Linked DNA regions of Homo sapiens: all the other regions are linked to region 1. The links come from fine-mapping of genetic effects on gene expression. A gene starts in region 1. Each other region holds a variant in brackets. All regions are shown on one strand. Distances are between the middles of the regions.

Region 1 (4,091 bases):
GATAGCATTAGGAGATACACCTAATGTAAATGATGAGTTAATGGGTGCAGCACACCAACATGGCACATGTATATCTATGTACCTGCACGTTGTGCACATGTACCCTAGAACTTAAAGTATAATAATAAAAAAAATAGCTGGGACTTAATTAAACTAAACAGCTTTTGCACGGCAAAAGGAATAGTCAGCAGAGTAAACAGACAACCCACAAAACGGGAGAAAATCTTCACAATCTATACATCTGAAAAAGGATTAATATCCAGAATCTACAAGGAACTCAAATCAGCAGGAAAAAAAAAACAGTCCCATCAAAAAGTGGGCTAAGGACATGAATAGACAATTCTCAAAAGATATATAAATGGCTAACATGAAAAAATGCTCAACATACTAATGATCAGGGAAACACAAATCAAAACCACAATGCGATACCACCTTACTCCTGCAAGAATGGCCATAATAAAAAAATAAAAATAAATAATAGATGTTGGCGTGGATGCAGCGAACAGGGAACACTTCTACACTGCTGGTGGGAATGTAAACTAGTATAACCACTATGGAAAACAGTGTGGGGAGTCCTCAAAGTACTAAGAGTAGATCTACCATTTGATCCAGCAATCCCACTACTAGGTATCTACCCAGAGGAAAAGAAGTCATGAAAAAGATAGTTGCACAAGTATGTTTATAGCAGCACAATTCACAAGTGCAAAAATGTGGAACCAATCCAAATACCCATCAATCAACGAGTGGATAAACTGTGGCATATATATGATGGAACACTACTCAGCCATAAAAAGGAATCAATTAATGGCATTCACAGCAACCTGGATGAGATTAGAGACTATTATTCTAAGTGAAGTAAGTCAGAAATGGAAAACCAAATATAGTATGTTCTCACTGATATGTGGGAACTAAGCTATGAGGATGCAAAGGCATAAGATTGACACAATGGACTTCGGGGACTCGGGGGAAAGGTTGAGAAGGGAGTGAGGGATAAAAGACTACAAATTGGGTGCAGTGTATATACTGATGGGGTGATGGGTGTACCAAAATCTCAGAAATCACCACTAAAGAACTTACTCATGTAACCAAACACCACCTGTTCCCCAATAAACTATAGAAATGAAAAAAAAAAAGAACTTTTAGCATCAAATACATGAACTTATGTGGAGTCATGGAGTCTCTTTTTAGGGACACACACTGTTGCTGTGGTGAACAGCCATTAAGTCATTGGTGTAAAACTTCATTTTTGCTAAGAGAAAGAACTTTCTAATTTTACTCAACTAGAATACTAAAGGGCAAAATGCAATAGCTACAAGTTTTGTTCTGCAGAGTAAATGACAGGTCATGAACTAATTCCGTTGGAAGAGATACAGGAAAAATATTACCTTGCAGGAAGCTGCCCTCCCCATAGTAAGCCTAGGAGCTGATGGTATGATGTCATCATTACGAAACTAGGTACTTTAAGCACTGTCTGAACAGAACTGCCTACCCCAGTAGAAGCTCTTGCGTTAAGTGCCACGCGTAAATGCTAATACATCCCAACGTATTAAAGCAGGGCAGGGAAGCTTTAAAAATCGTAGGTAAAGTAAGACTGAGGGGGAAAGGAACTGCAAGTGAGTGCTGCACGGGAACCGAGAAGCCGCCCCGGGTCGGGAAGGAAGGAGGTGGTGATGCTCAGGGCCAGAGCGGGGGCGTCTGGAGAACCCGGGTGGGAGCCAGACACCCGCTGCGAGCACGAAGAAAGCGCGGCTGAGGGTGGCAGCGCGCCCACACCCGCCCGGACGAGGGCCCGGCCCGCACCCACCTTGCCTCCAGCAGCAGCGGGGTCTCGGGCCACTTCGCGGCCAAGTGGGCAGTCACCGACTTGGACGCGGCGACCGTCCCGGAGCCGAGCTGCGAAAGCCACAGCGCTGTGGAGCCTAGTAGCAGCCGCACCACGTTCGTGGCTTTCGCTGGCGCCATGGCACGGAGAGAAAAGCGCGAGTCCCTCGGACCCGGTACCCACAGTCTGTGGCCGCCACGCTTCGGCCGGCTCTTCCCGCTGCGCGGCTGCCCACTTCCGGTGGGAGGAGCTCGAGTCCGTTACTGGGTGCCGGGTCCAGACCGGCGCATGCGTGTCCCGCTCCGGCGCGGTTTAGTGGGTGCGGCCTGGAGAGCCCACGCCAGCCGGACACTGGGCCACGTCGGAGCCGCCGGGGCGGCGCCGGGTTGCTGAGCGGCGTCACAGATGCTCCCGCGGGTCCGCTCCCGCGGGTCCATTCCCAGGACTTTGGGTTCTCGGACAGAGGCCTTAGGACACGGGGCGGGAAGCTGGCTCTCCAGACCGAACTAGGGCTCTGGAGTTGCCAAAATCTGGAAGCAAAGTCAGGACCACTTGCATATTGTCCACCTTTTACATAGGAGGAAAATAAGTCCAGTTAAAGTTGAAGTCCCCACCTCACGCAGTTCTCAAGTGTTACTACAGGTTGGAATCACCTGGGAGAGCTTTTATAAGGCCGCCGCCAAGGCCACGCCCCGTACCTGAGAATCTCGGGAGGGGGGGTGAGATGCGGCATCAGTAGTATTAGTTAAAATCCGCAGGCCGGGCGCGGTGGCTCACGCCTGTAATCCCAGCACTTTGGGAGGCCGAGGCGGGCGGATCACGAGGTCAGGAGATCGAGACCATCCTGGCTAAAACGGTGAAACCCCGTCTCTACTAAAAATACAAAAAATTAGCCGGGCGTAGTGGCGGGCGCCTGTAGTCCCAGCTACTTGGGAGGCTGAGGCAGGAGAATGGCGTGAACCCAGGAGGCGGAGCTTGCAGTGAGCCGAGATCCCGCCACTGCACTCCAGCCTGGGCAACAGAGCGAGACTCCGTCTCAAAAAAAAAAAAAAAAAAAAAATCCGCAGGTGATTCCAGTGTCCAATCATGTTAGGAAACCCGTGACTTACGGGTGGCTCTCAAACTTTAACCACTTGCTTGTTAAAACACTGCAGAGTGGTGGGCCTCCCCACAGTGTTTCGGATTCAGTAGAGCCCTTGCGGGGGCCGAGAACTTGCATTTTATTTCTCCCAAGTTCGCAGATAATACTAGTGGCTAGAAATCACACTGGAGCCTTTTCCATTGGAAGGTGTGGTCCAGGGTAGGCTTCAGCTGTGAGCTCAATGGAAATGCAGAAGCTCAGGCCCCGCCCCAGACCTAATGAATCAAGATCTCCAATTTAACGGGAACCACAGGTGATTCCTATGCACAGGAAAGGTGGAGAAGAGTGATTTAGAGGATTACATTTAAAAGTGCACAGAAAAGTGCCAATAAGCCTGAGCATGGTGGCTCACGCCTGTAGTCCCAGCACTTTGGAAGGTCGAGGCGGGAAGGTAGCTTAAGCCGAGGAGGTAGAGGCTGCAGAAAACGGTGATTGCGCCACTGCCCTCCAACCTGGGCGAAAGAGGGAGACCGTGTCTCAAAAAAACAAACAAACAAAAGGCCAATACGTGATAGTTGTTTTGTCAGAGTAAAATATATGGTAAAAGAGTTTAGCGGATGCACGGATTCATTGCTTTTTTTCTCTCCTGTTACTCCTTTGCCCTGCAGGGAAGCTGGATCTCTTGAAGTTGCGGAAACATAGTCATTCCCTTTTTTCGTTTCATTTGCTTAGTCAGTACCCTTCCTTAGAAAACCCTATTCCGCTAAGCAGTTCCACGAATTTCCAGAATAATTTCTCACTTCCAAAGTTTAGCCTTCATTTCCTGATTTATCCTACTTGGTATGATCTATCCTTACTTTAAATTTCCTCTTTATTGTAACTGCCATATAGCACTTAAGTTCTCACTTTAATACTTGAGTACGCTACTTACTTATTTCTCCTGTGAGAGATAGTATATTCCCCCAGAACTCATGCCTTGTTCATCTTTGGCATCCCGTGCAGTACCTAGCACAATACTTCACATTCACATGTTATTTGGGGACTCCATGAAGATTGAAGAACCCTTGCTTTATGGAAAGAATGTAGAAAGCTAAGGCAAATGCACTTCATTTCTATCCATAGTGTATACGAGAAAAATACATTACGAATCTTTCACAATTATTTGCTTTAATTAACTCCCCATTTCCA
Region 2 (4,091 bases), 170 kb before region 1:
AAAATGTAAAGACACCTAGGAACTTGGAAGACTAGAGAAGCTGAGTTTGGAAATTAGAAAAACTTAAAAATCAAAGGAAAGATTGGATCAGGACCTAGAATCATAAAAAAGAATATTCTGGTAAACATTCATAGTATGATTGCTCACTTGCTACAATTGTAATAGCTGATAAGAATTTATCCTGTTTCTCTCTCTTTATATGACTATACACAATAACTTACATCCTTTAAGTGAATATTATCAAGGTCACAGTTGCTGTGCACTGTTTCAACCAACCAGCCTTCTGGAGTAATCATGTTGAGGATTAGGAGGGGTGATTCAGGAATATCCAAAAATTTTGCCACTGGTCCAAGAGAAGAAACGTCATTAGCCCCTGACATCAGTTCTGGTTCCAGAACAAAACGGTAAAAGCTGTTAATAAAACATAAAAATACATAATGTGACCAAAACTGAGATTTTTCTTTTAAAATATTTTCAAAATTGAAAATTGCTTAATGATCTGACCAGAAGTCTACAATCAAAAAGACTAAGATGCATTATACTGCAGAAAAGTTAATGCTTATGAGAAATAGACAATCATTATTTGTTGACACTACTATCTAAGTCTATGTATATTATCTACCATTGTTAACTATTCCTTAATGAACATGATTAGAATCCCTTTAAGATATACCTGACTTATGCAGGTTCTAGGAGTTTATGATCTGTTATTGTATTATGATTTGTATGCATCCTCCTTCAAATCTGACCATGGTCTATTTTTCAGCTATTTTATTAACTTTTACCACCACTAATAATATGAAGAGAAATGGTAGGAAACAAATGAAATTCAAGCTGAAATTCTAGTACCACTTTTAAAAGCTCAACTAAAAACAAATAGGATTAAGTTGAAAGCAACTGCTTAATAGCACTTTTAGACTTAACTTCAGTTTTGCTGTATTTTAACCTCATCCTTCAATATTGTGCACAGAATTATTATGTTATGCTATCAAGGCTAGTGGCTTTTACTATTTTGAGACTGCAGTCAAGGTGTCAGCTGTGCTGTAGTTCTCTCAAGGCTCAACAAGGGTAGGATCTACTTCCAGGTTCTTCTAGTTCCCCAAGGGCTGTCTGAATGAGGACCGCAGTTCCTTGCTGGTAGTTGTCTGCAGACTGCTTGCAGTTACTTCCCAAAAAGGCATCTCCAATATGCTTCAAAAGAGAAGCACACAGAAGAGCCACAGAGAGAGAATGTCAGCAAGACAAAAGTCACAGTCTTTCATAACCTAATTGCAGAAGGGAAATTCCATCACTTTAGCCATATTTTGTTTTATGAGAGCCAAATCACTAGGTCTAGCTCTCACTCCAGGAGAACTTTCAGAGTGTGAGTCCCAGGCAGTGGTGATCACTGGGAGCCATGTTATGCAGATAGACAAAGAAAATAAAAAGAGGAGAAACAGGAGAGAATACAGTCATGAAGTAAATGTTCAAAACAAATTCTTGCTGCAGTGGAAATATCAAAGAAAAAGTATTCTCTGAATGTAGTGAGTAGCAATTTCTTTGTGATTTGGTAAATACAATTTCAGTGGCAAAGAGAAAGTTAAAGAGAAACTGCAGTGGAAGGTACAGTGAATGAGATATGAAGACAGAGTCTGACCATTCTTTGAAGAAATTTAGTTAAGAAGGAATGAAGAAGAGGGAAAAAAAAGACTCTAGAGGAGAGAAAGTTAAGGGAGCAACTTTTAAAAAAATTGAATAACTTTAAGGACTGAATGAAAAAAGCTAGTATAGAGATTAAAGATCCACAAGAGAGAATATGTGATATAGCAAGGATCCAGAACAAACAGGAAAGCATGAGATCAAAACAGAGTGGGAATGTTTAACTAAAAAAGAAGAAAGATGCCTCATTCCTTCCCTACAA[T/C]ACAGGAAGGCTGAGGAAGTATAGCAGTTAAGAGTAAGAAGCTGAGGGGATTCCTGCCCTTAACCTGTCTCATCTCTGAGAAGAATAAATTTACTAAAAGGAAAGGGCTGGGAATAAATGTGTATGCTAGGTTGCTTGATATATGCTACTGAGTTAATAAGATTCTGTTGAACTACTAGTTAAAAAAATAACTGTATACTCTAGTACATTATTTCATTTAGAAAAGTCAATTCTTTCCCTCCCAGTAGATTATGCTTGCTTATATGTTCAGTAATCCTATTCTTTATTACATAATGTGATGTTTTACAGAGAGGACCCCTACTCCTGTGAATAAAAATTCTGTACTTATGGAACTAACAAACCTTTCAATTAGTAGCTAAAAAATTTAAAGTTTTTGTTCAGATGTAAAAAGGCATGTGATAAAATTTAAAATACAAAAGATAAATGAGAAGCATAAAAACTCAATGAGATATATGGACAAGAGTCTTGAGGGACAATGAATAAGTCCTAAACTTTCACTTAAATTTCCCACATTTTCCATTTTATTGCTTTCCAACTATTAAAAATACTTAGGTTTAAAATGCCTGCTCTGGCTGGGCACAGTGGCTCATGCCTATAATCCCAGCACTTTGAGAGAGCAAGGCAGGTGTATCTCTTGAGGCCAGGAGTTCAAAACCAGCCTGGAGAACATGGCAAGACCCCGTCTCTACAAAAATACAAAACAAAACAAAACAAAAAAACTGTGCGTGGTGGCACGTACCTGTAGTCCCAGTTACTCAGGAGGCTGAGGTGGGAAAATCACCTGAGCCTGAGAAGTCGAGGCTACAGTGAACTGTGATGGTGCCCCAGCCTGGACAATGGGAGTGAGAACCTGTCTCCAAAAAAAATAAAAATAAAAATAAAAAAAAGTTCTGCTCAAGGCAACATCTATAGTATGTCAGTTGTAACAAATACAATTTGAAAAGTAAACAAGGAATGAACAGAATGCTACCTGTCTTGTGTGTGTATGCATACATTTTTTGTTTAGAATTACATCATTAAATAATACAGAGATGAGCACATTAAAAAGTCTTAAAAAGCTATACTAGTGCAATGGTACATACCCTGTTTTCTGCCCAATGACACATGAAGGAGAACTGAATATTCCCATCAATAAGAATGGCTCATAATGAATGACAGTGATTCTGATCCACAAAGAAGAGAAAGGGTATATTTTTGTCCCCTCTTGAGAGAGAATGTTATTTCAACAGAAGAGTGTTAATGAGGAATATTTGTATATAATTATAAACAACACTTTTTTATATCTCTGGCAGGTTATTCTAAGCTAATTTTATCCTAATGCCCCCAAATAGTAAATGTGATGATATAATAAAGATCATTTTGGTAATTCTGCTAAACCAAAAATGGTTTAATTCCACCTTATTTCCCATTGATGTATATCTAAATAGGTATTCCTAAATCACATTTCCAAAAATACCTATGAATAAATATAAATCCATGTAAATTCTGTAATTAGGTCAGATCACTTTGCTGAGTTAGGTTATTTTAATTTTTATATCAATTTTAAGTCAGTTAAGGTTAGTAAATAGTCTGACCTTCTGACTTATTTCTTTGAAGCATCTTGTGAAGAAAAGAAAAAACCAGGTCCAGTAACAATGATTGTTTTTTTCTTCTCAGCATTTACAAATTTTTCAAAATGAAATTTTGTTCACTCAGATTTACCTTTCTAAAGGGGCTTCTGAAAGCCTGCCCCTACAGTTCATGAACAACTTTATCTTCATGTTGATAATCTTGCCAAGTACCTATTGGAAAGAAATTCCCATGTTTGATATTAAATAATATTAATAGCTAATATTTATTATGTATTTACTATGTACCAGGTACTATATTAAAACTTTATGTTCATTATCTCACTTGATCCTTACAACGCCCTGCTGAAATAGTACTTTTGCAGTTTAGGTACAGAGAGATTAAGGTCACACAGAAACTCACAGCACAGGCAAGATTTTAATCCAAACAGTTGATTTCAATGTCCCAGGGTTATGCTGCTTGCCCTTTGCCTAAAGTGACTTTTTTTCATAGTATCTAAATTTCCTTAGTATTGAAGAACAAGGAAAATAATTACTAGAACCTTGATCTGCAAATACAAAGTGGTGACCTTACAACAACGTTGGTGGTGTCCTGATTCTTT
Region 3 (4,091 bases), 81 kb before region 1:
CAAATTAAAAACAAATGTTTTAAAGTTTGATAGTCTTAAAGCATTAGAAATGAGATTTTTTGGTATCTTCATTAATAGCAGGAAAAATATATTAAACTCATTAAGAAATAAGGCAAATAGTTCTAATTAGTTATCCAGAGTAAACTTACATAATTTTAGTGGTAGTAAAAACTTATTATTATATAAAAGATAAAACAACAAAGACTATTGTATTCTTTATCAAAGTAGTGAGGATATGATCAGCCCTGAGAAAGCCAAAAATGAGAAAAAAAATATTAGGTCACTCTTTTGACAAACCTACTACAAAAATAATGTAAGATCGAACAAGACATAAAGTATAAAATTCTAATACAGAGGAAGCTCCATTAAATCATGAAGTTCACGTGTGTTTGAATACAAATTTAAATTTTTTATTACATATAATTTGAAAGTTCTTAAACATAATAGAAAGTATTACTGTAAACAACAACATCAACAATAACCCCATTGACAACAAATTGGGGAATCTAAATGTTTAAACTACTCTTCATCAAGTCTGTGGCTGAGGCGACTATTCAGAGGCAAAAATATAAAAGGGACTCTTTAATGGGCTAGAACAGAATGTTTTAATGTAGATATATAAGACCCTGCTTATGGACTTCATCAGTCCTACTTGCCTTTCTCCCCAGTCAAAGTCACATGTTCTTACTGTCTCAGTCTCCCTGGGGGTGAGATGTAGGCCTTTATAGAACCAATGCTGATCTAATCCTAACCCATGGAGGCTCTGGCTCCTCCCGCTACTCTCAGGATCAGAGCAAGAAGGGCTGGGCCATGTATGGGGCATGTTATTGGTTCTCCACAACCCAGTAATGCAATGACTGAAAGGAGATAGGAAGGGAGCACAAAATAAATCCTTTACTCCTGTTCTTTCCCCACATGGACGATTCCAAAGTATTGGCTGCATAAAACCTCTCTATATATAATGTCTCTGTAATATGACATTTTACTTCCATTTCCTTATTTTCTTCCATTCATCTTCCTCTTTGCATTAATTTTATTCCACATCCTCTGAAGACACAAATATTCTCACATTTTGTCTCTTCCTCTTTTAAGAGAATCATGGTAGCACTAAGCAGTGATCAAATCAATGAGGAATAACAATGTAGCACACATCCTGCAAATCACTAATGACCAGGTGTAGGAGCTGGGGGGTTTTATTTTTTTAATAACCTACAGCCTTCCTAAATTATACGTGAAAATATTCCTGCCATAAAAATTTCCTCATACACTACCTTAGAAAACTTTCTAAAATCTACATACCATTTCACTACTTCCTTTAAACCTGTTTTCACTGCTGCTGGGCACATATATAATTTTTGTTCCCCTGAAATTTACAGGCTAGCATTTACAAACTTCTCTACTCTTTCTATGTGTATTATATGTATCTATCTTATTATTTTTACAATACTAGGTCCAAGAATTCAAGTAACTAAAGAGAAAAGCCCCATTTGAGATAAAACTGTAAAAAATGTTCAGTAAAACTACTTCTCAGTCTTTCCAATATATTTTCCAACGTATTTCCAAACTGGTAAGAATTTAAATAAACAATTCAAATAATTTCACTTCAACAAAAGTATATTCAATTGAATTAAAACTGAACATCTGAATTAAAGTATCATGTATCCTAAGTTCATCTAATGTTTCAAATATTAATTTTAATGTAGTTTTATGTTTCTCTATAAAAGTAACTCTTCTGTTTGGCCCACAACTGTAATTTTGGGTGAGTGACCATTGATAAAGCAAGGACTTCCTAATTCTGTCCTGTTCAAAATTCTGAGCAAAAAAATTTTGAAGA[AT/A]TTTTTTTTTTTTTTTTGACAAGAAACCAGATAGCATCCAGCATTCAAATACAAGCATTTTAAATTCCTCTTGTCAATTTCTGTCTTCTGGGGAAATACCCCATGTTGACTTCAGTCCTTATCTGGTATCTGGTTGTTCAGTCCAGTTCCAAATAACTTCTCTGCAAATCATCAATCTACTCTTCAATAAGAGACAGTTTAGAATAACAAAGTAATTATAGGTCTAACCCTCATCCAAACAAATATCTTGACTGTTTCTCCCAGTTCTGATATTCTAAGACACTTTGGGCTTGCCCATTTTGGTAGAAGAAAGCTGTTTTGTACAATCAAAAACATGTATTTATCTTTAAAGTGATCTTCATATTTTGACTTACACTAAATTCAAGACAATGTTTATTTTTATATAAACCATAGTTCATTTACAGCAATAATTTAATACTTACCTAAAAGCGTCATAAACATCCATATCAACACGAAGGCCATTTATAAATAGACGAGCATCGCCTGGCTGAATTTTAAATCTAACTTGAAGATCCTTGAAGTAGAGCAAAGCAATAGTTAACCAGTGATAGAACAATAGTGACCTATATTAGGGGTCACCATATTATTTCTATAAAGAGTCAGAGAGTAAATATTTTAGGTTTGGCAGGCCATACAGTCTCTGTTGCAATTATTGATCTCTGCCTTTGTATCTTTAGATACTATGTAAACAAATGGACATTGCAATGTTTATTGTAAAAATTAAGCTTTTAGGCCAGGCGTGGCGGCTTACGCCTGTAATGCCAGAACTTTGGGAGGCCGAGGTGGGTGGATCACCTGAGGTCAGGAGTTCAAGACCACCCTGACCAACATGGTGAAACCCCATCTCTACTAAACACAAAAAATTAGCTGGGCGTGGTGGCACATGCCCGTAATCCCAGCTACTTGGGAGGCTGAGGCAGGAGAATCACTTGAATCCAGGAGGCGGAGGTTGCAGTGAGCCAAGATTGCACCATTGCACTCCAGCCTGGGCAACAAGAACGAAACTCCATCTCAAAAAAATAAATAAAATAATAAATAATAAATAAAAATAAAAATTAAGCTTTTATTTATAAAAATAGGTGGCAGACCATATTTGGCCTAAAGGTAGCAGTTTGCCCAGCCCTGATCTCAGTGATGGGGGGAATCTTAAGATAGATTAGAGATAAAATTCAATACCTGAATATTCTGATTTTACAATACATGATATTACAGTTCTAATGTTACAATAATTACTTATCTACATTTCATATAGTGTGTGTATGTGTACATATACAATTTGCTAGTTGGCACATTCCTATTTCTTGAGGCAATGATATGCCAAAAGTAAAACTTTGATTTATGTGTAAATATTTGGAGCTCACTCTAAATTCATAAAAGTTTCCATTAAAGCTATATTTGATTTTTCACTGTCTTTCATTCAGTAAACATTTCCTGAGTGCCTGCTATGTTCTAGAAACATCTCCAGGCGCTAGAACAGTTAACAAAAGTAAAAAGGGGGATGTTCTTGTCACTAAAGCAAAGTAGTCAAGATCACAGTGTAAGTATCCAGTACGGTTGTCAAGATCACAGTGTGAAGATCATGCTTGGTTTAATCCTGATCTTTCTACTTATTAGCTGTTAAGATTTGGGCAAGTTCAAATCACTTTCATAATCCTCAGTTTCCTCATCTATAAAATGGGAATAATTATATCTATCTCACATGTTTGCTATAGTTTAAATGTAATATACATCTATGTCTTGTCACCTATAAAGTGCTCACAAATGAAAGCTGTTATTATCAGGGTAGGCAAATATATTTAGGAGGAAAAACAACCAGTGTATTTCAACATCATATGATAAGTCACATAATAGGGACTTGTGTGAACTACTCTGTAAAGGCAGAGGAAGCAACTAACTTGAAGAGATTCAGAGAAAGCTTGACAATGGTGAATTTTTCTGTACGATTATCACTCAACAGATGAGCTACACACAGAGGAGGGAGAAGAACTTAAAGTATTTCTACTTGTTTTATACAGAATACTGGCAAAAGATTAAACCCTGATATGAAAAGGTTCAGAGGTAAAATTTTTATTTGTCTTTAGCTACTTTAGATGTGCCTATCAAAGTTAATTAAGAAATCCATATTCCAACTTCAAAATCTACAGATGCCTAGTGAATTTATATTTCCTGCTGTTTTCCCCCAATCTGGCATCGAAACTTCACACACCCTGATTGAAGCTTTCTCCAGCACCTCAT
Region 4 (4,091 bases), 120 kb before region 1:
ATAAGCAATTTAGAATTATTACAATACATTTTCTTTCTTTTTTTTTTTTTTTTTTATTCTTCAGTTTGGTAAACATTTAATGAGCTCTGTCTCAGGTGTTGGCAATTTCACTTCACAACCAGAATCATGGTAGTAACCATTTCTTGAGCACCTATTGTGAGCAGGACAATTCTCATTAATTAACTCACTGAATTTTTTTGTTTGTTTGTTTGTTTGCTTTTTTGTTGTTTTTTTAAATTTTTTTAGTATTTATTGATCATTCTTGGGTGTTTCTCGGAGAGGGGGATTTGGCGGGGTCACAGGACAATAGTGGAGGGAAGGTCAGCAGATAAACTTGTGAACAAAGGTCTCTGGTTTTCCTAGGCAGAGGGCCCTGCCGCCTTCCGCAGTGTTTGTGTCCCTGGGTACTTGAGATTCGGGAGTGGTGATGACTCTTAACGAACATGCTGCCTTGCAGGGTCTGTTTAACAAAGCACATCTTGCACCGCCCTTAATCCATTTAACCCTTAGTGGACACAGCACATGTTTCAGAGAGCACGGGGTTGGGGGTAAGGTTATAGATTAACAGCATCCCAAGGCAGAAGAATTTTTCTTAGTACAGAACAAAATGGAGTCTCCTATGCCCACTTCTTTCTACACAGACACAGTAACAATCTGATCTCTCTTTCTTTTCCCCACATTTCCCCCTTTTCTATTCGACAAAACCGCCATCGTCATCATGGCCCGTTCTCAATGAGCTGTTGGGTACACCTCCCAGACGGGGTGGCGGCCGGGCAGAGGCGCCCCCCACCTCCCGGACGGGGCAGCTGGCCGGGCAGGGGCTGCCCCCTACCTCCTGGACGGGGCGGCTGGCCGGGCAGGGGCTGCCCCCCACCTCCCCGACGGGACGGCTGGCCTGGCGAGGGCTGCCCCCCACCTCCCGGACAGGACGGCTGCCGGGCGGAGACGCTCCTCACTTCCCGGACGGGGCGGCTGCCGGGCGGAGGGGCTCCTCACTTCCCAGATGGGGCGGCTGCTGGGCGGAGGGGCTCCTCACTTCTCAGACGGGGCAGCCGGTCAGAGACGCTCCTCACCTCTCAGACGGGGTGGTGGCGGGGCAGAGACACTCCTCAGTTCCCAGACGGGGTCGCGGCGGGGCAGAGGTGCTCTTCACAGCCCAGACGGGGCGGCGGGGCAAAGGCGCTCCCCACATCCCAGAAGGTGGGTAGCCGGGCAGAGACGCTCCTCACTTCCTAGACGGGATGACGGCCGGGAAGAGGTGTTCCTCACTTCCCAGACTGGGCGGCTGGGCAGAGGGGCTCCTCACATCCCAGATGATGTGCGGCCAGGCAGAGATGCTCCTCACTTCCTAGACGGGGTGGCGGCCGGGCAGAGGCTGCAATCTCGGCACTTTGGGAGGGCAAGGCAGGCGGCTGGGAGGTGGAGGTTGTAGTGAGCCGAGATCATGCCACTGCACTCCAGCCTGGGCAACATTGAGCACTAAGTGAGCGAGACTCCATCTGCAATCCCGGCACCTCGGGAGGCCGGGGCTGGCAGATCACTCGAGGTCAGGAGCTGGAGACCAGCCCGGCCAACACAGCGAAACCCCGTCTCCACCAAAAAATACGAAAACCAGTCAGGCGTGGCGGCGCGCGCCTGCAATCCCAGGCACTAGGCAGGCTGAGGCAGGAGAATCAGGCAGGGAGGTTGCAGTGAGCCAAGATGGAGGCAGTACAGTCCAGCCTCGGCTTGGCATCAGAGGGAGATGAGGGAGAGGGGGAGGGAGAATACATTTCCTTGTAAAAATTACAACTTTTTCCAATTAAGCAATTTTAGATGCAATTATGCCTAAGATAAATTTAATTAAATATATTTTTAAAGAATTTCAGCTTTTATTTTAGATTCGAGGGTACACATGCAGATTGGTTACAACACAGGTGTATCATGTAATGCTGAAGTTGGGGTTATGACTGATCCCATTACCCAGGTAGTTAGCATAGTACCAGATAGTTTTCCAACCCTTCCCTGACTTTTTCCTTCCCTCTCCCCTCTAGAAATCCCCAGTGTCTCTTGCTGCCATCTTTATGTCTATGAGTACC[A/G]AATGTTTAGCTCCCACTCATAAGAGAGAACATGCAGTGTTTGGTTTCCTGTTTCTGTGTTAGTTTGCTTGGCCTCCAGCTGAGTCCATGTTGCTCCAAAGGGGACGATTTCATTTTTAATGGGTGCGTAGTATTCCATGGTGTATATATGCACCACATTTTCTTTAACCAATCCACCACTGATGGACACCTAGGCTGATTCTACATCTTTGCTATTATGAATAGTGCTGCAGTGAACATACATGTGTCTTTTTGGTAGAACGATTTATTTTCCTCTGGAGATGTACCCAGTAATGGGATTGCTGGGTTGAATGGTAGTTCTGTTTTAAGTTCTTTGAAACATCTACAAACTGCTTTCCAAAGGGGCTGAACTAATTTACATCCCCACTAACAGTGTATATGCGTTCCCCTTCCTCCTCAGCCTCACCAGCATCTGTTGTTTGTTCACTTAATAACAGCCATTCTAAATGGTACGAGATGGTGTCTCCTTTTGGTTTTGATTTGCACTTCTCTAAGGATTAGTAGTGTTGAACATTTCTTTATATGCTTGTTGGCCGCCTGCGTGTCTTCTTTTGAGAAGTACCTGTTAATGTCATTTGCCTACTTTTTAATGGGGTTATTTATTCTTTGCTTGATTTATTTGCTACTTATGGATATTAGAATTTTGTCGGATATACAGTTTGTGAATATTTTCTGTATATTCTGTAGGCTGTCTGTTTACTCTGTTGCGAGTTTCTTTTGTTGTACTCTTTAATTAATTAGGTCCCACTCGTCAAATTTTTGTTTTTGATGCAATTGCTTTTGAGATCTTAGCCATAAATTCTTTCCCAAGACTGATGTCCAGAACGGTGTTTCCTAGGTTTTCTTCTAGAATTCTTATAGTTTTAAGTCTTATACTTAACTGTTTAATCCATCTTGTTAAGTTTTGAACGTGGTGAAAAGTAGGGGTCCAGTTTTGTTTGCATATGGCTAGCCAACTATCCTAGGACCATTTATTGAATCGAGGACCCTTTTCCCACTAATTTTCATCAACTTTTCAAAGCTAAAATGTTTGTAGGTGTGTGGCTTTATTTCTGGGTTCTCTACTCTGTTCCATTAGTCTATGTGTCTATTTTTGTACCAGTACCATGCTGCTCTGGTTACTGTAGCCTCATAGTGTACTGTGAAGTTGGGTAATACTGTGTCCGGAATTGGTGGGTTCTTGATCACACTGACTTCAAGAATAAAGCTGTGGACCCTCGCGGTGAGTGTTACAGTTCTTAAAGATGGAGTGTCCAGAGTTTGTTCCTTCTGATGTTCAGATGTGTTCGGGGTTTTCTCCTTCTGGTGGGTTGGTGGTCTCGCTGGCTTCAGGAGTGAAGGTGCAGACTTTTATGGTGAGTGTTACAGCTCTCAAAGGCAGCACGGACCCAAAGACTGAGCAGCAGAAAGATTTACTGCAAAGAGCAAAAGAACAAACCTCCCACAGCATGGAAAGGGACCCAAGCGGGTTGCCACGGCTGGCTTGGGCAGCCTGCTTTTATTCCCTTATCTGGCCCCACCCACATCTTGCTGATTGGTCCATTCTACAGAGAGCTGATTGGTCTGTTTTACAGAGAGCTGATTGGTCCGTTTTGACAGGGTGCTGATTGGTGTGTTTACAATCCCTGAGCTAGCCACAAAAGTTCTCCAAGTCCCCACTAGATGAGCTAGACACAGCACTGATTGGTGCATTTACAAACCTCCAGCTAGACACAGGGTACTGATTGGTGTGTTTACAAATCTTGAGCTAGACACAGAGTGCTGATTGGTGTATTCACAATCCCTCAGCTACACATAAAGGTTCTCCAAGTCCCCACTAGACTCTGGAGCCCAGGGGCTTCACCTAGTGGATCCCACACCTGGGCCGCAGGGGGAGCTGCCCGCCACTCCCGCACCTTGCACCGGCACTCCTCAGCCCTTGAGCGGTCAATGGGACTGGGCGCCGCGGAGCAGGGGGCAGCACTCGTCGGGGAGGCTCGGGCTGCGCAAGAC
Region 5 (4,091 bases), 30 kb after region 1:
AAACTGTGGATTTTTAAAATATTCAGAATATGCTTCTTGATAAAATAGAAAACTAGAACAATCATAAGCAGAACTCAAAGCTTTACGAAAATGCTCTCAGGACAATAAGTGTTTATACTGCCTGATCCCTTAGAGGAAAAAAAGAGAAGTAATCATACAGGTTTGGAAGATAAAAAGGTTCTATTTAATAACCTTTATAAGGTAGCAAAAATAATTTTGTTGGGTAGCTAATATGCTTCCATGGCAAGGTGACCAGTCTTTTTGATAAATGAATATGTATATTCATATATATATATATAAAATATATGTAATAGAGTTTTGCTTTTATGTGGTATAATTCAACAGACATTTCACTAGGAACATTGGTTTAAATGATAGCAAAAGGTCATACTAAAAAGGTTGTTATCAGTAGTAGGAACACACTGAACGATTTGCCAAAGGAGTCAAAGCTCACTTCACCTTAGATAAAACGTAAACAAGAAGTGTCAGGGTTTTGAAGCTAGGGATATGTTAGCAAGGGATTTTGTGAAAACTCTTTTGGCAATTTAAAGGGAGAACATATTTACTTCTTAACATGTTCAAAGAACATTTATTCAGATGCCTACTGAGTGCAAAGCACTGTGGTAAGTACCTAAAAAACTAAGAGTCCTATTCAAAAGCTGCTCTTAGAAGCTTCTGGATCATCTTTCTGTGCTGTTGAAAAAGGCCATCCTAATGAAGCAAAGAACAATTACCTAAAATATCTCTTAGAGCCTGCTTTAGACATTTGATTTCTTATGATTTAAAAAATGTATCCACATATATGAAGAGAGAGAGAAAAAAATAAAATTCATGGCCAATGTAGAAAAGAGGAGGATTACATCCTGATTTGTGATATAAAACATTAGGAAAGAGAAAACAGTTTTTACCAAATGTGTTTCCACCTAGGATTTTTTTTCCAAAGGTAATAATTAAACTAAAGTTATCTGTCTTGCTGCAGACAAATTAAAGTGTATTTTTAAAGCTTGCTTTCTTAAAATGTAAGTAAACATTTTGAAGCTCAAAGCCATTTGAAAAACACAAACATTCTAGTTTGCTAAGAGAAAGAATAGTCATCTACACTGATTTTCATGCCCAGTCATCTGTTTTGCCTCCCATATTAATGACCTTACCATTCACTTAGCTTTCCAAGCTAGCACACTTTGAGTCATCCTCAATTTCTTCCTCTCTCACCCCTTCCTACTTAGTCACTGAATCCTATTGTTTCTACCTTTGGAATATTTCTCAAATGTGTACACTTCTGTTCCATTGCTATTCCTTTTGTTTGAGGTCTCATTTCTCTCTTGGACCATGGTAATTGCTTATTTAGTCTTTTACAGATTCTGTCAACAAATATTTATTGAGCACTCACTGCTATTATGTTACCTATGTTATTAAAACCACCACATTTTAATCTCCTGTCTAGAATTACTGCATGAACTCTAGATCCTATATCCAGCTATTTATTTGATATCTCCATTTAGCTGTCTCATTAGCAGTCTAAACCTAGCTCACCTAAAGCAGAACTCAAAATTCGCCCTCGCTGCTCCCCACCCTCAACACCTCCTAACTTTTTCTCTCTCATTTTCTTCTTTTTAGTAAATGGAACTATCAGGCTTCCAGGAGCTCAAGAGACACCCCGAGAAACATCTTTGATTCATCCATTGTTCACTTCCTCTTATTCAATCTTTCAGTAAATCCTGTTGATTTGACTTCTAACATCCATCTTGCCATCACTTCTTTCCACCTCTGGAATCAGACTACCTGGTTCAAATCTGAGTACTATCACTTACTATGTTACCTTGATTTCAAATGGTTTCAAAATCAGACTTTTCAAAGGGAAAAAAATGGCATCATTTAAAAATTCTAAAATGTGCCTTTACTATCAAGAGCCAAAGTATAAGGACAGTGAGGAAACGTGTGTTCCTAGTCTTTTTATGTCTTCTAAACTGGCTTTTTTTTTTTTGACAGAGGAAAGATAGGGGGATTTCTAGATACTCGTTAGGAGTGGAATTAATGGCTAGGAAAGAGTTTATAGTCTGCAGTTTGGTGTTTGGTCAGCACCTCACGATGATTTATTTATTACTGGCATTTATTTGGTGGGGGCAATGATAGAATTGTCTTGCATTCACGTGACTTGCAAATATC[G/A]CCCTACATTCAGAAACTGGATTATCCTTTGATGTATAGTAGGATTTCAAGATACAAGTTATGTTTTTTGAGATATTTTATTTTATTTATTTTATTTTTATTTTTATTTTTTTGAGACGGAGTCTTGCTGTGTTGCCCAGGCTGGAGTGCAGTGGCACGATCTAGGCTCACTGCAAGCTCCGCCCCCTGGGTACACGCCATTCTCCTGCCTCAGCCTCCCAAGTAGCTGGGAATACAGGCGCCCGCCACCACGCGCGGCTAATTTTTTGTATATTTAGTAGAGACGGGGTTCCACCGAGATATTTTATGTTATAGAGAAGTATTTTGACCAGACATTTTTTTAAAAGCCTAGTTAATTGGGGAACATTATACTTCCCCAATTTCTTCACTCTAAAAGTCTATAATTTGTCTGGGTGTGTGATTGCTTCAACCAAGGTTTTTCTCTCCTTTTTCTTATATGTCAATTTTTAAGTCAGAATTATTCTTACTTAGCCTATCACTAATTTTAATTCTGGTGTCCACAAACACCTCTGCAATTTTTTTTTTTTTTTTTTTGAGACGGAGTCTCGCTGTCGCCCAGGTTGGAGTGCAGTGGCGCGATCTCGGCTCACTGCAGGCTCCGCCCCCGGGGGTTCACGCCATTCTCCTGCCTCAGCCTCCTGAGTAGCTGGGACTACAGGCGCCTTGCTCTTTTATTTGCTTCTTGAAAAGAATGTCTTGTGCTCTTACTTCTCTATGTCCAAACTTGAGATAGTTAAAAGTCATAAGCATCTGCGAACTTCTTTATGTTGTCTACAGTAGTCAGGTCTCAGCATTTACACGTTGCAATACACAGTGTTTTATTAATTACTTTCTTTTCATGTTTCATTTACATTACAATTAGAGCATTATGTTAATTTCTGAGAAATTGTGTGTAGGTAGATTCTATTATCTATGATGCTTAACTTGAGATCATTAAAGGGATTACTTCAAAACATTTGTTTAATAAAAATGAGTGCTCCATCTGATGGGGTTAAACATCACTGGTTTCCATGCTAACAGGCCCTTGAGAAAGGGCCACAGAAGAGCTGAGGTGGCAGACAGAAGTGGGCTCGCAGTTCAGTGGAGGAAGATGTAGAGCATGTGGACATGACAGCTTAGATTCTAACAAGGCAGCAGAAGACCCAGCAGAAATCCAGGCTTGCACCTGCGATCAGGTAGGAATAACTGCACATGGAGGGGGTGAGGGGGAGCAGCAGGAAAAGGAAACTCCCCTGCAGACCACAATTCCCTTAGCCAGTACGAAAGGGCTTAGCTCACTGCAGGAAAAAGCAAAGAAGAAGGGGAGGGGAGAAACATGAATTTGACTATTTATTCCAAAGATACAGAGGTTAACTCAGAAGTGACTGAATTAACGTAAGTTGAATGCTTCTCATTTCCCTCTGTATCAGGCAATAGAATCTTAAAGGCAAAGTCTCATTTTGTTATTTGAAAATGAAGAAGTGAAATCTTTCCATACTAGGCCCGTGGACTTGTGTCTGTAAATTATTTTCCCCACCATTGCCAGCCTATCCCAAGTCCCCACCATCTCTTGCCTGGAGAACAACAGCCACTTCCTAACTGATTTCTCTGCTTTCTCTTTTGTCTTTCCTAATCCATTCTTCATGGATCCCAGTAAGCTTTTAGTATCAATCAGTCCTGTCATTTCCTCAATGACTACTTTGCACCCACTATCATGGCTCTGACCCCAAACCTCCCTCTCTTTCATTTCTCTATCATTTGTCTGTCTGGAGCCCCCTAAATTCTTTTCTGCTCCAGACCTTTGTGCTTATTGTTCTGCTTAGAAAGCTCTTCTCCAGGATGTCTGGCACGGCTAGACCATTCTAATCCTTCAGGACTTAGCCCCTTTGCCTCTATGTAACAACAGTCTTTTCTGACTCTCCAGT
Region 6 (4,091 bases), 140 kb before region 1:
CATTTTTTCATGTGTTTTTTGGCTGCATAAATGTCTTCTTTTGAGAAGTGTCTGTTCATGTCCTTTGCCCACTTTTTGATGGGGTTGTTTGTTTTTTTCTTGTAAATTTGTTTGAGTTCATTGTAGATTCTGGATATTAGCCCTTTGTCAGATGAGTAGGTTGCGAAAATTTTCTCCCATTTTGTAGGTTGCCTGTTCACTCTGATGGTAGTTTCTTTTGCTGTGCAGAAGCTCTTTAGTTTAATTAGATCCCATTTGTCAATTTTGGCTTTTGTTGCCATTGCTTTTGGTGTTTTAGACATGAAGTCCTTGCCCATGCCTATGTCCTGAATGGTAATGCCTAGGTTTTCTTGTAGGGTTTTTATGGTTTTAGGTCTAACGTTTAAGTCTTTAATCCACCTTGAATTGATTTTTGTATAAGGTGTAAGGAAGGGATCCAGTTTCAGCTTTCTACATATGGCTAGCCAGTTTTCCCAGCACCATTTATTAAATAGGGAATCCTTTCCCCATTGCTTGTCATTTGACCCAGCCATCCCATTACTGGGTATATACCCAAAGGACTATGAATCATGCTGCTATAAAGACACACGCACACGTATGTTTATTGCGGCATTATTCACAATAGCAAAGACTTGGAACCAACCCAAATGTCCAACAATGATAGACTGGATTAAGAAAATGTGGCACGTATACACCATGGAATACTATGCAGCCATAAAAAATGATGAGTTCATGTCCTTTGTAGGGACATGGATGAAACTGGAAATCATCATTCTCAGTAAACTATCGCAAGAACAAAAAAACAAACACCGCATATTCTCACTCATAGGTGGGAATTGAACAATGAGATCACGTGGACACAGGAAGGGGAATATCACATACTGGGGACTGTTGTGGGGTGGGGGGAGGGGGGAGGGATAGCATCGGGAGATATACCTAATGCTAGATGACGAGTTAGTGGGTGCAGCGCACCAGCATGGCACATGTATACATATGTAACTAACCGGCACAATGTGCACATGTACCCTAAAACTTGAAGTATAATAATAATAATAATAATAATAATAATAATAAAAAAGATTCCTGCCCACTAAAAAAAAAAAAAAAAAAAAACTGTTAAGGGCAACCAGAGAGAAAGGTCGAGTTATCGACAAAGGGAAGCCCATCAGACTAACAACGGACCTCTCAGCAGAAACCCTACAAGCCAGAAGAGAGTGGGGGACAATATTCAACATTCTTAAAGGAAAGAATTTTCAGCCCAGAATTTAATATCCAGCCAAACTAATCTTCATAAGTGAAGGAGAAATAAAATCCTTTACAGACAAGCAAATGCTGAGAGATTCTGTCACCACGAGGCCTGCCTTACAAGAGCTCCTGAAGGAAGCACTAAACATGGAAAGGAACAACCAGTACCAGCCACTGCAAAAACATGCCAAACTGTAAAGACCATTGGTGCTATGAAGAAACTGCATCAATTAACAGGCAAAATAACCAGCAAACATCATAATAACGGGATCAAATTTACACATAACAATATTAACCTGAAATTTAAATGGGCTAAAAGCCCCAATTAAAAGACAGAGACTGGAAATTGGATAAAGAGTCAAGACCCATCAGTGTGCTGTCTTCAGGAGACCCATCTCATGTGCAGAGACACACATAGGCTCAAATAAAGGGATGGAGGAAGATCTACCAAGCAAATGGAAAGAAAAAAGAGCAGGGGTTGCAATCCTAGTCTCTGATAAAACAGACTTTAAACCAACAAAGATTAAAAGAGACAAAAAAGGCCAGTACATAATGGTAAACGGATGAATTGAACAAGAATAGCTAACTATCCCAAATATATATGCACCCAATACAGGAGCACCCAGATTCATAAAGCAAGTCCTCAGAGACCTACAAAGAGACTTAGACTCCCACACAATAATAATGGGAGACTTTAACACCCCACTGTCAATATTAGACAGATCAACAAGACAAATGTTAACAAGGATATCCAGGACCTGAACTCAGCTCTGCACCAAGCAGACCTAACAGACATCTACAGAACTCTCCACCCCAAATCAACAGAATATACATTCTTTGGAGCACC[G/A]CATTGCACCTATTCTAAAATCGACTACATAACTGGAAGTAAACCACTCTTCAGCAAATATAAAAGAACACAAATCACAACAAACTGTCTCTCAGATCACAGTGCAATCAAATTAGAACTCAGGATTAAGAAACTCACTCAAAACCACTCAACTACATGAAAACTGAACAACTTGATCCTGAATGACTACTGGATAAATAACGAATGAAGGCAGAAATAAAGATGTTCTTTGAAACCAACGAAAACAAAGACACAACGTACCAGAATCTTTGGGACACATTTAAAGCAGTGTGTAGAGGGAAATTTATACTACTAAATGCCTATAAGAGAAAGCAGGAAAGATCTAAAATCAACACCCTAACATCACAACTGAAAGAACTAGAGAAGCAAGAGCAAACACATTCAAAAGCTAGCAGAACGCAAGAAATAACTAAGATCAGAGCAGAACTGAAGGAGATAGAGACATAAAAAACCCTTCAAAAAATCAATGAATCCAGGAGCTGGTTTTTTGAAAAGAACAAAATTGATAGACTGCTAGCAAGACTAATAAAGAAGAAAAGAAAGAAGAATCAAATAGACACAATAAAAAATGATAAATGGGATATCACCACTGATCCCACAGAAATACAAACTACCATCAGAGAATACTATAAACACCTCTACGCAAATAAACTAGAAAATCTAGAAGAAATGGATAAATTCCTGGACACATACACCCTCCCAAGACTAAACCAGGAAGAAGCTGAATCTCTGAATAGACAAATAACAGGCTCTGAAATTGAGGCAATAATTAATAGCCTACCAACTAAAAAAAGTCCAGGACCAGATGGATTCACAGCCGAATTCTACAAGAGGTACAAAGAGGAGCTGGTACCATTCCCTCTGAAACTATTCCAATCAATAGAAAAAGAGAGAATCCTCCCTAACTCAACTTATGAGGCCAATATCATCCTGACACCAAAGCCTGGCAGAAACACAACAAAAAAAAGAGAATTTTAGACCAATATCCCTGATGAACATCAATGCAAAAATCCTCAATAAAATACTGGCAAACCAAATCCAGCAGCACATCAAAAAGCTTATCCACCATGATCAAGTGGGCTTCATCCCTGGGATGCAAGACTGGTTCAACATATGCAAATCAATAAATGTAATCCATCATATAAACAGAATCAACAACAAAAACCACATGATTATCTCAATAGATGCAGAAAAGGCCTTTAACAAAATTCAACAGCCCTTCATGCTAAAAACTCTCAATAAACTAGGTATTGATGGAACATATCTCAAAATAATAAGAGCTATTTATGACAAACCCACAGCCAATATCATACTGAATGGGCAAAAACTGGAAGCATTCCCTTTGAAAACGGGCACAAGACAGGGATGCTCTCTCTCACCACTCCTATTCAACATAGTGTTGGAAGTTCTGGCCAGGGCAGTCAGGCAAGAGAAAGAAATAAAGGGTGTTCAATTAGAAAATGAGAAAGTCAAATTGTCCCTGTTTGCAGATGACATGATTGTATATTTAGAAAACCCCATCGTCTGAACCCAAAATATCCTTTAGCTGATAAGCAACTTCAGCAAAGTCTCTGGATACAAAATCAATGTGCAAAAATCACAAGCATTCCTATACACCATTAACAGACAAAGAGAGAGCCAAATCATGAGTGAACTCCCATTCAGAATTGCTACAAAGAGAATAAAATACCTAGTAATCCAACTTACAAGGGATGTGAAGGACCTCTTCAAAGAGAACTACAAACCACTGCTCAAAGAAATAAAAGAGGACACAAACAAATGGAAGAATATTCCATGCTCATGGATAGGAAGACTCAATATCATGAAAATGGCAGCACTGCCCAAGGTAATTCATAGATTCAGTGCCATCCCCATCAAGCTACCAATGACTTTCTTCACAGAATTGGAAAAAACTACTTTAAAGTTCATATGGAACCAAAAAACAGCCTGCATTGCCAAGACAATCCTAAGCCAAAAG

Alleles and levels. Alleles are on the strand shown, and positions count from the first base shown. SD is a standard deviation of normalised expression in the study named. Not every link is listed here.
With allele C in place of T in region 2, the expression in tibial nerve of the gene that starts at base 2,051 in region 1 is higher (moderate effect, 0.48 SD a copy in GTEx).
For the expression in monocytes of the gene that starts at base 2,051 in region 1, allele AT in region 3 goes with a lower level than allele A (large effect, 0.87 SD a copy in Schmiedel 2018).
For the expression in atrial appendage of the gene that starts at base 2,051 in region 1, A is the low allele of the variant in region 4 and G is the other (small effect, 0.35 SD a copy in GTEx).
With allele G in place of A in region 5, the expression in transverse colon of the gene that starts at base 2,051 in region 1 is lower (small effect, 0.37 SD a copy in GTEx).

What was found. PIP is the estimated chance that this variant, and not a neighbour inherited with it, causes the effect. A credible set is the group of variants that fine-mapping cannot tell apart.
Region 2: its variant is the best candidate, but not a certain one, in a credible set for the expression of UGGT2 in tibial nerve (GTEx, PIP 0.62).
Region 3: its variant is the best candidate, but not a certain one, in a credible set for the expression of UGGT2 in monocytes (Schmiedel 2018, PIP 0.89).
Region 4: its variant is the best candidate, but not a certain one, in a credible set for the expression of UGGT2 in atrial appendage (GTEx, PIP 0.75).
Region 5: its variant is the best candidate, but not a certain one, in a credible set for the expression of UGGT2 in transverse colon (GTEx, PIP 0.53).
Region 6: its variant is the best candidate, but not a certain one, in a credible set for the expression of UGGT2 in monocytes after Pam3CSK4 (Quach 2016, PIP 0.52).

Annotation. Positions count from the first base shown.
Region 1 is chr13:96,051,351-96,055,441 of GRCh38, forward strand. It overlaps UGGT2 (UDP-glucose glycoprotein glucosyltransferase 2), which reads right to left and starts at 2,051. Exons shown (of 39, transcript NM_020121.4): 1 at 1,805-2,051. The coding sequence starts at 1,962. RefSeq lists an enhancer at 1,813-2,312.
Region 2 is chr13:95,884,270-95,888,360 of GRCh38, forward strand. UGGT2 (UDP-glucose glycoprotein glucosyltransferase 2) reads right to left here. Exons shown (of 39, transcript NM_020121.4): 26 at 3,623-3,702; 27 at 222-411. Among named protein-coding and RNA genes, the nearest start is that of UGGT2, 170 kb to the right of the region's middle. The variant T/C (reference allele first, on the strand shown) is at 1,901.
Region 3 is chr13:95,970,302-95,974,392 of GRCh38, forward strand. UGGT2 (UDP-glucose glycoprotein glucosyltransferase 2) reads right to left here. Exons shown (of 39, transcript NM_020121.4): 11 at 2,279-2,370. Among named protein-coding and RNA genes, the nearest start is that of UGGT2, 81 kb to the right of the region's middle. The variant AT/A (reference allele first, on the strand shown) is at 1,835.
Region 4 is chr13:95,927,434-95,931,524 of GRCh38, forward strand. All of the region lies in intron 17 of UGGT2 (UDP-glucose glycoprotein glucosyltransferase 2), which reads right to left. Among named protein-coding and RNA genes, the nearest start is that of UGGT2, 120 kb to the right of the region's middle. The variant A/G (reference allele first, on the strand shown) is at 2,079.
Region 5 is chr13:96,081,650-96,085,740 of GRCh38, forward strand. No RefSeq gene overlaps it. Among named protein-coding and RNA genes, the nearest start is that of HS6ST3, 6.4 kb to the right of the region's middle. The variant G/A (reference allele first, on the strand shown) is at 2,167.
Region 6 is chr13:95,908,708-95,912,798 of GRCh38, forward strand. The region is part of intron 20 of UGGT2 (UDP-glucose glycoprotein glucosyltransferase 2); the gene reads right to left. Among named protein-coding and RNA genes, the nearest start is that of UGGT2, 140 kb to the right of the region's middle. The variant G/A (reference allele first, on the strand shown) is at 2,093.